Regions from separate parts of the Homo sapiens genome. Here region 2 is linked to region 1. A link means that fine-mapping ties the variant in region 1 to the expression of a gene that starts in the linked region. Tissue or cell type: whole blood. Region 1 holds a variant in brackets; the other region holds the start of a gene. All regions are shown on one strand. Distances are between the middles of the regions.

The links. PIP is the estimated chance that this variant, and not a neighbour inherited with it, causes the effect.
Region 2: it holds the start of IL7R, and the variant in region 1 is fine-mapped to the expression of IL7R in whole blood (TOPMed, PIP above 0.99).

Annotation. Positions count from the first base shown.
Region 1 is chr5:35,807,763-35,815,972 of GRCh38, forward strand. SPEF2 (sperm flagellar 2) reads left to right here. Exons shown (of 37, transcript NM_024867.4): 37 at 6,702-6,849. The coding sequence ends at 6,791. Among named protein-coding and RNA genes, the nearest start is that of IL7R, 45 kb to the right of the region's middle. The variant C/T (reference allele first, on the strand shown) is at 3,418.
Region 2 is chr5:35,852,960-35,861,139 of GRCh38, forward strand. IL7R (interleukin 7 receptor) reads left to right here and starts at 3,932. Exons shown (of 8, transcript NM_002185.5): 1 at 3,932-4,100; 2 at 7,893-8,031. The coding sequence starts at 4,019. RefSeq lists an enhancer at 7,734-8,180.

The DNA.
Region 1 (8,210 bases):
GCAGAAGAAAGGAAGAACTGCAACTCAGAAATCACATAACCACCAAGCAGGTCTGGACCACACATGCTAAATGTGCATCCACTATGGCGAGTCCCAGGCCTTTAACAGCAGGGACTAAGGAGGGCAGAGGCTGACACCAACCCCCTTTCATACTGTAGCACTACATCCCTCTCAGATACCAGTTTAACACGAAGTCTCCCTGTTTGACTCCTGTGAGTTGTGTATTGAACTACAAAGTGTTTGCTGAGTTGAAAATAAAAGCGCTTTCACTTTGATAGAATGTAGATTGTGTATCTTGACTTCTCAATGATAGCAAGTTACATTTTGCAGTTTTCTTCCTATACCCACAAATGAAACTATTCAGACTTAAATATCTTCCTGTGTGCCTAAACGTTTTTGTTCTAAGTTGCTGATCCTTTTAAATATTAAATTATTAATTAATATTAAAATTAATTTTATTGCCTGTATTAGTATAACTGAAGTTGATTTCTTTTTTTTTAATTATACTTTAAGTTCTAGGGCACATGTGCACAACGTGCAGGTTTGTTACATATGTATACATGTGCCATGTTGGTGTGCTGTACCCATTAACTCGTCATTTACATTAGGTATATCTCCTAATGCTATCCCTCTCCCCTTCCCCCACCCCATGACAGGCCCCAGTGTATGATGTTCACCTTCTTGTGTCCAAGGGTTCTCATTGTTCAATTCCCACCTATGAGTGAGAACATGCGGTATTTGGTTTTCTGTCCTTGCGATAGTTTGCTGAGAATGATGGTTTCCAGCTTCATCCATGTCCCTATGAAGGACATGAAGTCATCCTTTTATATGGCTGCATAGTATTCCGTGGTGTATATGTGCCACATTTTCTTAATCCAGTGTATATATCATAGATGGACATTTGGGTTGGTTCCAAGTCTTTGCTATTGGGTTTTACATATATATACACACACATATATATTTATATGTATATATATACACACATATATATTTATATGTATATATATACACACATATATATGTATATATGTATATATGTAAAACCCAATATATATACATATATGTATGTAACATATACATATATTTTTTAAATATATATGTAAAAAAATTGGGTTTTACATATATATATATATATATAAAACAAGCTAGCAGCTGTTTAGACACGAAGCCTATGCAGTAGTGAAATATGATTACAGCATGTAAGAACACAGGCTCTGGAATCAGGTCATGGGACTGAATCTCAGGTCTACCCCTCAGTAACTCCCTGACCTTAACTTTCTCCTAATCCTGGCTTTCTCGTCTGTTAAATGGGGATGAAACATTCATATTCAAAGGGTGGTGGTGAGGATTAAGTGAGGTCATGCATGTAAAGCACTTGGCATGGTATCTGACACAGGGGAAGTGCTACAGAAATGATGGCTGTTAGGGGTACTATTCAATACTGATCACCTACTACTGAGACCCGTAGTATAAGCTTCCATAGGAGAGAGAAAATTGAGTACATAATTTGGTCACTGCTCTAAAAAAATTTAACTCCTTTTTGCAAGATAATTTTTACATGCAGGAATTGCAAGAAAGTGATATAAGTTAAACCAACCAAGTGCAAAATTATAGGAATTCAATACTTGACATTTTTGTGCTGGAAGTGTGGAGGGAGTCTGCCCAAGAAGGAATAAGCTAGGTCTTGAACGATAGCCAGGGTTTGGGAAAGTGGAGAGAGGGAAAGGGACGTCTACATGGATTTTGCTGTTGGGGTAGGGAGGCAGCAGAGTCCTGGGTGAAGGCAAGGTCTGGGGAAGGCATGGAAGAAGGACTGCAGGAGCCCCACCCCATGAATAGCCTGGGAAAGGTATAAAATGATCCCATTAAATTGGTCAGATCAGGCCAGATTGCGAAGAACCCAGATGTCACAAAGGGAAATGTGGATTCCATTTGAAAAGCAAGAGAGAATGAACAGGCTGCTGAGCAGAGCATGATATGATGTTAATTTCTTCATCCCTAAGCATTCCTTGGGGATATTGTGCCATAATGTCATCCTGCACAACGTGGATTCCATAGGCCCATCTCTCTAGACTGCATTTTAGCTTACATTCCCTGCTCCACATATCAGGGAACAGCTCTCTTACATTGAACCAGTAAAATAATTTGCAAAATCCTTTGGAATTATGTAAAATAGGACTTATTTTATATTGCTGATTACAAGTAGGAGCATAAAAATGATGCCACAATTATTTCCTCTCATACTGGAAAGAAAACTCCCACAAAATCAGTATGACTTGAAAATATCTTCACTCTGAGCAGAGTGATTAAATATGATGAACTTGCAAAGAAGATTCTATTTGACAATTTGCTTGAGAAAAGAAAATAGCCAACAGATGGCTACCTTCAAGAGTTAGCCTTTCCGAATAGGTGTTCTGACTTCCCAGGAAACCTGTCATCCATAAGACTCCCCCACTTTATTTTTTTGAGACAGAGTTTTGCTCTTGTTGCCCAGGCTGGAGTGCAGTGGCATGATCTGGGCTCACTGCAACCTCCACCTCCTGGGTTCACACGATTCTCCTGCCTCAGCCTCCTGAGTAGCTGGGATGACAGGTGCCTGCCACCACGCCCAGCTAATTTTTTGTATTTTTAGTAGAGATGGGGCTTCACTATGTTGGCCAGGCTGGTCTCGAACTCCTGACCTCAGGCGATCCACCCGCCTCAGCCTCCCAAAGTGCTGGAGGACTCCTTTTAAGTTATACATTCCCCTCATTTCTGAAGGAGTGTCAGCAACTAGCAATGTTAACTGAAGTACTATTGGCATTTGGAGCAGCACAGTTCCTCTTTGAGGATAACTGTCCCAAGTGTGGCAGAATACCTAACATTTCAGGCCCTACCCCCTGTATTCCAGGAACATCCTGACATACTGATCTCCAAAACCACCTCTGCCTGCACATTTGCCAAGCTTTCCTTGATGCACAGTACCCCTCTGGCTGAAAGCCACCCAGCAGCAGGGTGTCTGTCTTCTGTTAACCAGTCTCACAATACCTGTAGCACCTGGCATTCTCATAGCAGAGAGTTAGTTAGTGAGTTAGTTCATTGCCAGAATGCTTCTCTAAGATATACCTGAGTCATCTACTTTAACTCTCCCTCCTCAAGTCCTCCACACCTCTTCCTGGTCACTCCACCAAGGAATCTAATTAGAGGCCAGTAAACTACCACCCAGGGGACTCATTTGTATGATGGTCCATCAAGAAGAGTTGTGCCTGTGTCCTGAAAAGTCTACATTCTAATATTTACAGTGAAAAAGGGTCCCTTTCCAGTAAGGTGTTCTATTCTCATTTTTGCTAAAAAAAAAAATAATAAATAATAAAATAAAAACAAAAGAAATGAAGGAATGGAGAGAAAAGAATCTTTGAAGACTCAAACCACTGCACT[C/T]GTCCTGTCATTTTTTGCTTCAGATATCCATGTACAAGTAAATAGATCACATTTTTATAATACACTTCAACCACAGTGATGTCATCTGAAGATCTTTCAAGATAAGAAGAGCAAAAGCTAGAGTGTGGTTTTTCAGGTTAAAATGTTGTTTGCTATTATAAACAGTGGGAAGTGAAGGTTGTTGCCTAACAGCTCTATGTTTACAAGGTTCTTGTTTAGAAGTGACAACATTTTAAGATACATATTTGAAAAAAATAAGTATGCATAATTGTAATAATGCATTTAAGGTGTACTGGCTTTTGGTTATGAGAGTGGGCTCTGGAGCTGCACTGACTGGGTTCATACCTATGAAGTGTGTGGCCTTCGGCAAGTGACCTCAAAGTGCCTTGGTGTCTGCATCTGTAAAATAGGGCCAATGATCATAGTCACCTCATGGTGGGGGGGGTGGGGTTTGTACAAATTAAAGGAGATAATACATATAAAGTGTTTAACTCAGTTCCTGGAAGATAGAAAGCACTCAATATATATGAGATACTACTACTACTACTATTAGGTTCGTGCAAAAGTAGTTGCAGTTTTTGCCATTACTTTTTTTTTTTTTTTTTTTTGAGACAGAGTCTCGCTCTGTTGCTCAGGCTGGAGGGTTGGATTGCTGGATTCAGTGGTGCAATCTTGGCTCACTGCAAGCTGCACCTCCCGGGTTCACGCCATTCTCCTGCCTCAGCCTCCCGAGTAGCTGGGACTACAGGTGCCTGCCACCACGCCCGACTAATTTCTCCATATTTTTTTTATTAGAGATGGGTTTTCAATGTGTTAGCCAGGATGGTCTCGATCCCCTGATCTCGTGATCCGCCCACCTTGGCCTCCCAAAGTGCTGGGATTACAGGCATGAGCCACCGCACCTGGCCTCCCATTACTTTTGATGGCAAAGAACCACAATTACTTTTGCACCAACCTACTTCTACTACTGCTGGTCTGTAGTAGTTACCGTGCACAAGAAATTCTGAATCACGTGCAATTATATGTGGATGGACTAGTGAGCTGGCATCTAATCTCTTGAACACATATGTCTTGTCTTTGGAAAAAAAGAAGGACTTTACTGGTGCAGTGCCATGATGATAAAGGGTCCAAATTGAAGTCCCAGGAAGCCTCTGGTCCATACCTATGTGGAAGTTCCAGATTTTGCGTTGGACATTATAGGCATTCAGCTAAAGTCACTTATTTAATTTCCACTTTCATAGGCCTTGTACAAAAAAGTTATTTTCAAATAATGCTCCTAAATTATTAAGAAAATGATTTGTATAAATATAAGAAGATCAGTGAGGATATTGGAACTGGGTTGTTGGTGAACAAAGTCAATTTCCTGTGATAAATATATATTTATAAATGTAAATGAATAAACAATTTTCTCTAAAAACTTAATAACTTTAGTTTCTTGTGATGAACGCAGGCTCAATTATTATACATTCTTTAAAACAAATATGTAAATCAAGCATATTACCTTATAATTGAGGTTTATATTCAATAGGAGATAGCAAGAAATCTTTTAATGTTAACATTAGAATATCACCAGAAAATATCTTATAAACAAATGAATCAGGACCCAATTACATTAGGATAACATACCTATAATTATAAGTGCGAACTGAAGGAGACTTTCATCCCTCTTGTCTTCAGGGCACCTGACTTTAAAATATTCTCTAAGCTTCTCCTTTATCTTTATAACAAAATATGATAGCTGCTTCAGTGCTTTGTGTTTTCAAAGCACCAGTGTCAAACATTTTCTGGCTTTCACAGGCTCTTCTCCATTCACTGCTACTGAAAATTGTGGTCCCTGATTTCAGCTATAAATTTAGCTAAGACTGGTTTAAATATATCTGGAGCTTATCATTTTCCCCTTGCTATGGAGTGTCAGATAATCACAAGTTAGCTTATTCCTTAATCCTCAAATTAACTTTTGATAATATTAAAATGACATTAGTTATTATAAACATACTATATAAAGAAGACATGTTATTAGGAATTGTAGTGGGCTGGGCACAGTGGTTGCCATCTGTAATCCCAGCACTTTGGGAGGCTGAGGTGGGAGGATTGCTTGAGGCCAGGTGTTTGAGAGAAACCTGGTCAACAGAGCAAGACTCCTCTCTATAAAAAATTTTAAAATTAGCTGGACATGGTGACATGTGCCTGTAGTCCCAGCTACTTAGAAAACTGAGGTGGGAGGATTTCTTGAGCCTTGGAGATTGAGGCTGCAGTGAGCTATGGTCATGCCACAGCACTGCAGCCTGGGTGACAGAGCGAAACTCTATTTCTAAAAAAAATAAATAATAAATGGAAGAATTATACTGGGTAAGACTAGAAAAGTCAATGGGGAGCAGCTTTTCTTTTCCACTTGGTTCACTTAGCATTGACCTTTGGCTTTAGGAGATTTGTGTTTTCAAGGAACAAGATCTCTAAAGAAAATGATTCACTATGATTCCTCGCAGTGACTGATAGAAGCAGTGCATATGTCAATTGGCAAGGGTCAGCACATATGGTGAACAAACTCATGTCTTCTCAACTAAAATGATCACAGTCAAATTGAAGCCTTTGAAACTCAGCTCTGAGGAAAAGGAACTTATATTGTTAAAATACTTCTCTAAAATTGTGAAATAAAAAAAAAAACCTAAAAGCTACCTAAATGCAGTTCTGTATTTTTCACATGTTGGTACTCCTTCTACATTGTAATAATAGTTTAAATATATTTTGAAAAATATCTGTGATTTAAGATGTAAGATAGCTGTATAGCAAATGTAAAACAGGTCATTCTTTCCCTGATGTTTTTACAATGAAAGAATGAGACAATTTCAGGAAAGTAATCTTTTGTTTTAAAATTCTACAAATCTATAGACATGATTAATTTAGCATTAGCATTTACTTTCATAGAGGGTGAATACTGGTTTTTTTGTTCATTCATAAGGAAACAATCTTTTAACTTGCCCATTCATTATATGCCAGGTTCTGTGTAACTGCTTTTACAAATGTTAATTAACCTAATATGACAACTCCATTATTAGGTGTGGAAACTGAGGGTCCAAGATCTTAGATAATTTTCCAAACATACAAGTAGTAAGTCTCAGGGTGGGATTAAAACTAAATGGAGAAATTTGCTCAGTGGAAAAAAAGAAATAAAAACTGTTTAATGGTTGCCATGTACTATGTGATCATTTATTAGTATTTGTATAGTATAGTATTGATCATCCTTTATTAGTATTTGTAACTTCTCTTTGAATCTTTTGTCTTAGGATATTAAAATAATTCTCCAAAGGAGTGAACATGTACAAGGAAGTGATGGAGAGAGATCACCTTCAAGACATACAGAGGAAAAGAAATGAAGACAAAAGAGTGTGATTTTTTTAATTCTGCAATAAATCTTCCAAAAATTAAATGTGACCATGGTGTTTGTCATATATGTTACCATTTTAAGTATAGAAATGAACCCTACCAGTTCATTATCGGCATTGAAAATGGAACCTTCCTTAACTTGGAGAATATTTCATAATAAAGAGAGAAAAAAATCCAAAGTAAAAATCCAAAGTAAGCAGGAATGCATTTTGAAGTGATTCTGAAAATGGAAGGCCCCAAAACAAGATGTTCAAAAATAAGTCATGAAAACTCCCTATGAAAGGTATCTACATTAGGCAGATATAGTGAAAATTTCCCCAAAACTCCACATCAGCACAGTGCTTCTAGGTACATCTTACAGTTCTTTCTCCATATGCAGTAAAATTTCCAGGTTTATTTCAATAGCCAAGAAGAAGGCTGCATTATTGAACTGCTAGTAAAGCTTTGTTCCCATCATCTATTCATAATTATTTCTTAATAGAATATATTTCCTTCATAGATAGATGTACAATTTCATCTTTTCGCTTGATAAGTTGGTGACTCAAATTCAATGACACTTATCAATAAACTGTTTCAAGAATGGTGATGTATTCTTGGTGGCTGGGCTGCTTCTATGATAACCCCTGTGGGTCTCCTCATTGGCTGAATCCTCCTCTTCTGCTCAACCTCTGAGTTAGGAGGGCCCCAGGAATCAGCCTTCTCCATCTGCAGTCAAGCTCTGGATGATTCATCGATTTCCATGACTTCATGGGTATTACAGAGGCTCCCAACACTGAAATTTCTATTCCCACCTTCGTCCAAAATCCAAACTTCTCTGTCTTAATGGCCCCGCATTTTCCACATGGATGGCTAATAGTCATCTCAAACTCAGCGTGTCCGAGGTGAATTTCTGATTTTCCTCTTCCGCAAACCTGCTCCTCTAAGTCCTCCTTCACTTTAGGCAACTGTGTCCTCCTGCTGTTCAGACCAGAGAACTTGAAGTCATCCTTGAGTTGCCTCTTTCTCTCATATCCCACCTCCAGCCTATCAGCACATCAAGTAGGATAGACCCTGAAAATGCATCTAGAATGTGATCTTCTTTACTCCTTTGTCGCAGGAAGTCTGGTCCAAGCCTTTGCCATCTCTTGCCTGGATTACTGCAGTATCCGGGTAACCAGTGATCCTGTTTCTGTTCTTGCTCGCCCTACAGGCTGTTTTTAAGCACAGCAGCCAGAGGGAGCCTTTTATAATGCGAGTCAGGCCATGTCACACTTCTGCTCCAACCCTCTATGTCCTATGTCACCCAGAATCCAGCCCAAGTCCCATCTTGATCTTACCCTCCCTGCCTCTTTGACCCCATCTACTGTTCTCCCCTTTCTCACTGCTTAAGTGACAAAACTACCTTGCACATCTTAGAACCCACCGGGTAC
Region 2 (8,180 bases), 45 kb after region 1:
GCAGGTCATACAGATTTTATGACACATAGAATGTGTTTTCAGTATTTTTCAAACATCAGATTTTACCCAGGATATTACTGTTGCAACATTTACTGCCTGTTATTATTGCTGTTTCACTTATTGTCCTTCAATATATAGTCCCAAGGTGAGTGACTTTTAAATCATCCTCATTTAGGACAAATTGCTAAAGGCTTAAGGACTATTTTATAAGCTTCATCTAAAAACTGAGTCAGAGGAATGCTTTTGTCCTTGAAACAGTTTGTTTCCCAGGGTTCTCATGATACACTGGTATCTGTCCAACTAAATTCATAATTTCTGTAGAGAATAGAGTCAAAATTTCTGTTCCTAATAGATGGATCCAGATAGTAAACACTAGTAATAAGACAAGATGCTCAGCCTGAATTTTCCCAGGAAAACCTTTGTCTTTACTAATCAGAAAAAAAAAAAAAAAAGGAAGATCTGGGCTAGATTTTTATCCAGTTAACAAACAACAAACAACCAAATAATGGATACACCCCTCTAACATTTTAGGATCTCAATCTCGTTAAAAGATAAGTTCTCTTAACTTGCTAGGACTCTACCGGTTATATAGGAACACCACAGAACTTATTGCAATCTGAAGATAAAAGAAAGTCTTTTTTGTGTTTTGCCTGTTGGGCAAATAGCCTGAACAATTACAAAAAAGGAAGAAAAGGAGACTTGGCCAACTGGTGTCAGGAGTCTTAACAAGGTCAGTGTGTTCTGCTTGTGTATGAGAAAGAATCAAATGGCTTTTTTTTTTTTTTTTTTTTTTTTTGAGGCAGACTGTCACTCTGTCACCCAGGCTACAGTGGAGTGGTGCAATCTCAGTTCACTGCGCAATCTCGGTTCACTGCAGCCCTGAGTAGCCAAGACTACAGGCGGGCCCCACCACACCTGACTAAGTTTTCTATTTTCTGCAGAGACAGAGTCTCACTATGTTTACTAGGGCTGGTCTTGAACTCCTGAGCTCAAGTGATCTGCCCACCTCAGCTTCCCAAGGTGTTGGGATTACAGGCATGAGCCACTGCACCCAGCTGGCTTTCCTTTTTAATGATTCACTACATCATACAAACTCATCAAACTGAAGGAAGACAAAGTACAAAAGAGAGACGAGAAAATGTAGCCATGAAAGGAAGTGATGGGTGAAGAGGAGGAGAAGAAATATGGCCAAGTCAGTTGCCACGCCAAACTGCTTGCTTCTACCACAGTCCAATGCTTCCCTCCTGATTTCACATTTGGAGACTTGAGTGTCCCCAAATAGTGTTCCTCATCCTCTTTTCTTCTTTCTGTGCTTGTCTCACAAAAGTAATGACAAAGTAATATAGTAAATGTTTGTTACCTGGGGGATAGGGTGAACTAGGTGGTTCTTCCTCAGCTTTTCTAAGTCTCCAAAGGACTAACAAGACCTGAGTGAGGAAAGAGAGAAGGCACTGTTGTTCCCCCACAATCTCTAGAAGGACTGGTGACGCATGTCATTTTTCTTTGAGCTCCCCACACTTTAGGCTTCTCTCTGAGGTCTTTTCAGCATCTCCTGCCCCACCCAAGAGTAAGCACCCCTGTGGAAATCCCCAGAACAAACCAGCACATGCTGTACCAAAATATTGTGTCTTGGCTTTGTTCTTTTACATCTTCACAACTAAAGGAAAGAGATACAATCAAAATGATAGTCCACTTAAATGATAAACAAGAGAATTTAAAGAGACATAACCCAGTTACTCACCCATGAAGTGACAATCTGTTAGCAGTTTAGGAGATTTGCATTGGTAGATAGATATAATTTGGGATTTCTCCTTGAACATTAGCTTAATTCATGGGAATCTGTAATTATAGCTTTCTTGAAAGGGTATTTAGCTCAGTGTACAAAACATACCAATTTTTGTGAATCAGGCTTACAATTTTCTAACCAAGCTTTCAAAACAAGATTAGAAATGAGGGCATAAATTATTATCGATGCACAAAATTGTCACTCTTTATTTGGCTTGGAAGGGTTTTGAAATGCCCAGAGAAGGCCCTGACAAATGGAGAAGATGGAATATGTCCCCTTCAGTTGGATTCTTGCTCCGAAGTATTCCTTGAGCCTATACTCCAAAGTGTGGCATTATAACTGGTGCAGACGGAGTCTGTCTTAAAACTGAAAAGGAGGATCCAGAGACTGGTACAAATGTCCCACCTCCTTTTTTTGTTACTTCGTTATTGTCAAATAATTGTAATGATGGGACAAGCTAAATCATGAGTCTTTTAAAGTCTCTTCGATTTGCTTTACACCTGGGGGGTTGTTGCTTGTCTCTGCTAATTTTAGCCATTTCACAGGCCCATGGGAGCAATTCTACCTAATGACAGTGAATCCAACAGAAGTTCATAACTCACTGATCACTTAGTTTCTCTGCACTCCTCACCTTATAACTGCAGTCTTGTGGCATTTTTCCAAAAGAGAGCCACTGTGAATCAAGCATAGAGTTTTATGGCCTGAATCCAGGTTAGATTATTTTTTTCAAGAAAAAGAAAAAAAAATCTAACAGTTACCAAGAAGCAGTCAGGCTTTACAAATATCACCACTTTAACCATGAGGCCATATTAGGAAGGCTTTTGACTGGCATTCAGGTTTGGGGGAGTCTGAATTTTCTATGCCATGGTCTCAGATTTCTGCCCCATATACCTAGGCACTAATTTAGTTCATATGTACTATGTGTACCTGAAAAGTTGTGTGGCAATCAAATTTTCACAAATAGAATCCTGTTTTAAATACACTAAGAAAGTACCTACTTTATCCTTTAAACAAGAGGTCAGCAGACTTTTTCTACAAAGGGTCAGATAGTAAAGATTTTACACCTTTTGTACAATACAATCTCTATCTCATCTACTTAGCTCTGCCATTGTTGCATAAAAGCAGCTGTAGATGATACACAAATGGGTGAGGCTGTATTCCAATGAAACGTTATTTGCAAAAACAGGTGGTAGATTAAATTTGGTCCCAAGGCTTACTTGGGAAAAAAAAAGATCTTTTGAAAAAGAAAAAATAAATGAATAATTTTTTAAAAAATTGTTCCCTAGGTCATAGTTTGCCAGCCCCTGCCCTAAACAAATAATTCTTGAATGCCTACTGTGGTGTGTAAGATATGAGTAAATACCAGGGATACACAGAGAACAAAAGAGAAAAACTGCTATTCTTGTGAAACTTGGAAGTTGGAGGTAAGCTATTTAAAATAAACCCACAATAAAGTACTTCACATAGTGCAGACTGTTTCTTTAAATCAAAACTCACTCCAAACAACCAATTGATTCACTTTGTAAGTTTGAATTTTTGTCTTCAGATTCTTTTAAAGTGGGCCCTTAGTCAGGAGCGGTGGCTCATGCCTGTAGTCCTAGCACTTTGGGAGGCTGAGGCAGGCAGATCACTTGAGGTCAGGAGTTCGAGACAAGCCTGGCCAACATGGCGAAACCCCGTCTCCACTGAAAACACAAAAATTAGGCTGGCATAGTGGCATTTGCCTGTAGTCCTAGCTACTCAGGAGGCTGAGGCAGGAGAATTGCTTGAACCTGGGAGGTGGAAATTGCAGTGAGCCGAGATCATGCTATTGTACTCCAGCCTGGGCAACAAAGCAAGACTCTGTCTCAAAAAAATAAAAATTAAAAAAATAAAGTAGCCTCTAGCCTAAGATAGCTTGAGCCTAGGTGTGAATCTACTGCCTTACTCTGATGTAAGCACAGTAAGTGTGGGGGCTGCAGGGAATATCCAGGAGGAACAATAATTTCAGAGGCTCTGTCTCTTCATGTCCTTGACCTCTGCTTACAGCAGCAATACTTTTACTCAGACTTCCTGTTTCTGGAACTTGCCTTCTTTTTTGCTGTGTTTATACTTCCCTTGTCTGTGGTTAGATAAGTATAAAGCCCTAGATCTAAGCTTCTCTGTCTTCCTCCCTCCCTCCCTTCCTCTTACTCTCATTCATTTCATACACACTGGCTCACACATCTACTCTCTCTCTCTATCTCTCTCAGAATGACAATTCTAGGTACAACTTTTGGCATGGTTTTTTCTTTACTTCAAGTCGTTTCTGGAGAAAGTGGCTATGCTCAAAATGGTGAGTCATTTCTAAGTTTTCTTATGGATTTTGGATTATCTGTAGCATGGTTTCAGGTTATTCAGTTCCCTAACAGACCTGAGTCAGGCACTGGGTTTGAATGCAGTTTGAGAATTTCCCACATATTCAGTCATTTTTTTTAATGTTTAACCACCATGACAGGGGGCAGGGGATCAATACTATGGGTGGTTTATAAGACCTCAGTATTCTCAAGAAGGAATGCATTTCACTCCCAAGTGTAGATCTTAAATGTTGAATGATTACTCTGCTCTTACAAAAAGAATGCTCATGTAGATGCTATGACTGTACTTGTAGGAAAATGTCCAAAGTAATTTTACCTTGTCAGGAGATCAAACTGGATTCATTTTGTTTGACTTTTTAAGAAATCCTGAAAGCATAACTTTCAGGATAAGGTAATGTACAGAAGCAATAGCTTTGTCTTCAGTGACCAGTGCTATATCCTCAGCACCTAAATCAGTGGCTAGAATATAGTAGACATCCAATAACTTTTGAAAGTGTTTTCAAAATACTTTAGTTTTGAGAGATTTATGTGAGATTTTAAGTAAATAACTGACTAGAGAAAGATCTAAATGAGTTTACTCATTGAAATACACTGAATTGCCTCCACACCAACAAATTGGCCATATGTAATAATTCTTTTTGGGATCTAAAAAACTTAGTACCGAGAAGCCAACCCTGCCCATACATAAACACATTGTAATTATAACAAAACTAGGCAGAAGCTTCTAACAGCAGCAGGAGGCATGTGGGAATTTAGACCATCAACTTGCTCCTGCAAATTAAGCCCTTTCTCTTTAAGAGTTAAAAACTATTTGGCTATAGACAATATCAAACACATCAGCCTAATGACTCAGCTTATGCATTTTGAGTCATGTAATTACGAAGGATGGAAATCCCTAGAATTTTCTCATTAAGGGAATTGTCAGAGAGTTTGACATTTTTTACAGTATATGACTCACTTTATGGGGGATGATTATTATTCTATGCTAAACTTTGCCTTGGATTTCCACAAAGACTGATGGGAGGCAGGAAACATAAATCTTACTCTCTTTCATGTCATCTATACTCACTAGTTCACCCTGGTGATCATACTATTTTTAAAATATATAAGAATGCTAGTTGAAAGCTGGGTTTTCACTCCAACTTTTTAAGTTTCAGATTTTTTAGAAGATGTATAATTACCCTATTCACATGATTACGTCAAAATACTTCCCAGTTTGGGGTATAGGAATTCACATTCAGTTGCTGCTTGTTGAAAGTTGTCAATTTTCTGATCATCACAAGGATGATCAAGAGAAGAAAGGGATACTTTTTAAAAATCCAAATCATTTACACTATTAATCAACTAACTCCATTCAGTAGGAAGAAGACTTCTAGATGACACTGGCTTGCCTATGATACATATTCCACACAATTTAAATTTTTATGGATAAATATGTCTAGATACCTATTTAAATATGAATAATATTAATTATTGAGCATTTAAAGAATAATAGATTAACTCATTATTCAAAAGCTCTATGTAATTTCAAAACCATAGTAATTATAACACCGTCAATTGACATAAACTTTTTAAAGAGAAGCTCAAATGTTTCATGTATATTTTCAGAATTAGAATTCTTATTTTACCTTTTCATTACTTATTTCTCAGAAAATATTATACTCATAGCTAATCCCTATTAAATCCTTACTGTGTTCTAAGCTACCTCTTTGTAAATATCCATTCAGTGATTGCTCATAGCACGAGTTTACATATTAGAACACATGTCTTAGAGAAGTTGCCTACCTGACAGAGGACCACAGGTAGAGTATCCAGAATTTAAACGCACATCTGTCCAGCTCTAACACCACAGGTCTTAACCACTGTGTACATTAACTACTCTTAGCCAAGAATTTTTCAGCTCACGTCATGTAGAATATTCTTTTTGTAAAATGCCATCACATTTTATAAGTCATTGAAGGGAATTTTTCTTGGTTACAAAGCAACTCTGCCCCATAATATCTACTGAAAAGCCAGTGAGCTGCTTCCTAAAACACAGCCATTTTAGGTGCAGGAAACAGTGTATAAATGGCTCATTGTATATTGTATGCTTTGCCAGACTGAGTGGCAGTGGGAGTCCTTTGTTATGTGGGTGCTGACATCTGCTAGAGTGTGCTGTCTCTATTGAAGAATCGTGAAGACAAAGCCGACCCACAGGATGTCTGAATCCAAATAATAATACATGTTCTGTGTATAGAATTGGTGGAAGAGAAAATGTCAGGACAGTGTGAGGACTGCCATGTAAGGTCAGAACCACTGCATTTAGAAAGCTACCACTGCACAGGGAAGAAATCTAAGTCTACAAAATTAGTGGGCTGTCTCTCATTATTTCGTGCTGTCATCAGAAGGAGGGCCATACCCTGCTGAAACTACATAAAGAGCTTTTGCTGGTGGCAGAACTGTGAACTGGATGGATTCTGGGAATGGCCAGAAAAACAAATGCCTGTGGTTGTGAGCAGTGCCCACACCCATGGTCTAGCTAGGGCTGTTTGAGATTTGTTGCTTTGACTGAACCAACCTGTCATTCAACTGGTTGGTCCATTCACAGTCAGCTTTATTAACTTTCCCATTTTCCCTACTGAGTTATTTAAGTAAAGAAAGTGCTATTCGGACAGCCCTTGGTCTCTGGGACAATCAACTGGGATTTGATTTTAGTATATTCTGTCTCCAGTGTAAAGCCTTGGAAGCATCTAATTTCTAGTACTGATGAACCAAAAATACATGGAAGCAGTCCTAGGCTCACACTTGAGCACTCTGAGAATGGCTTTGCTTACTCCAGATTTTCTCAGGTCCCAGTGGGTGTATATTTTCTGACATATTTATTCCAGCCTCACTTTCTATCATGTAAAACATACATACAAAATGTAGATTTCATTATAGGGTCTACAAAACAGCTTAAGAAACCAAATACTATGTGTGACAGATCACACTTTCCAAAAGTAATAGCAAAAAAAAAAAAAATCTGGTTCCCCACTTTCTTCCAGCATCCTGCTAGAATCTATCAGATACTGCGTCTATAGAAGAATCTATAAGAACAGAAGCAGTATGTACAACATTCACAGGAAGTTTCACCAAATCGGAGTCCTGCCAGATCTAATTTTTTTTCCCTAATCACGTTTGTCTCAGTCAGTAGCTTAAGACAATGGAAATAATCAGTGCCACTTTTAATTGGGATGCCTTTTTAGGCAAGGGAAAGTGACCTCTTAAAAAAGCAAAATTCTGACTGCAAGATAGCTATCATTGTCCTTCATTTAAGACAAAAAAAATACTAGGGAGGGAATAAATTATGATTTGTAATAAAGTGAAAAGTGAGATTAGGTAGCATGGGGATAATGGAAATAAAGTGTCTCTTCTTTGAAATAATATGAACAATCAATGTAACAAATGTAGCAGAAAAAACTCCAGTTTAAATACAGAAAAGAATGTGTTCAATGCCTCTGGTTCTTTAACTCAGAAATATTTGGAGGTTACTTACTCATTATGATGGATTTTTTTTTTCTATTGGAAAACTCTGTTAGCATTGAGCGTTTTTGTTTTTTGTTTTTTGTTGGTTGGTTGGTTTTGAAGCATTTTTCTTGTCTTTGCCCTTGGGCTTTTCTTCCTTGAATACTACATAATCCATTACTATTTCATGTCTGCCACAGAGTCTGCTATTTTATTAAGGTCATGCCATATTTCAAAAGGATGCATTTATTTGTTTCATTAACAGCTGCATGTTTGTTCCTCCCCAGGAGACTTGGAAGATGCAGAACTGGATGACTACTCATTCTCATGCTATAGCCAGTTGGAAGTGAATGGATCGCAGCACTCACTGACCTGTGCTTTTGAGGACCCAGATGTCAACATCACCAATCTGGAATTTGAAATATGGTGAGGGATGGTGGTTTTAATGGTTGCTTAGACATCCTCTGTCTCTCTTTTCATATGCTCTTTTTAATAGCCACAAAAGAAAGAATATGTGGCCTAATTAACAAATGTTAACATCTAAGGAATTCCCAAAGGCCTCCTGAAACTCCTTG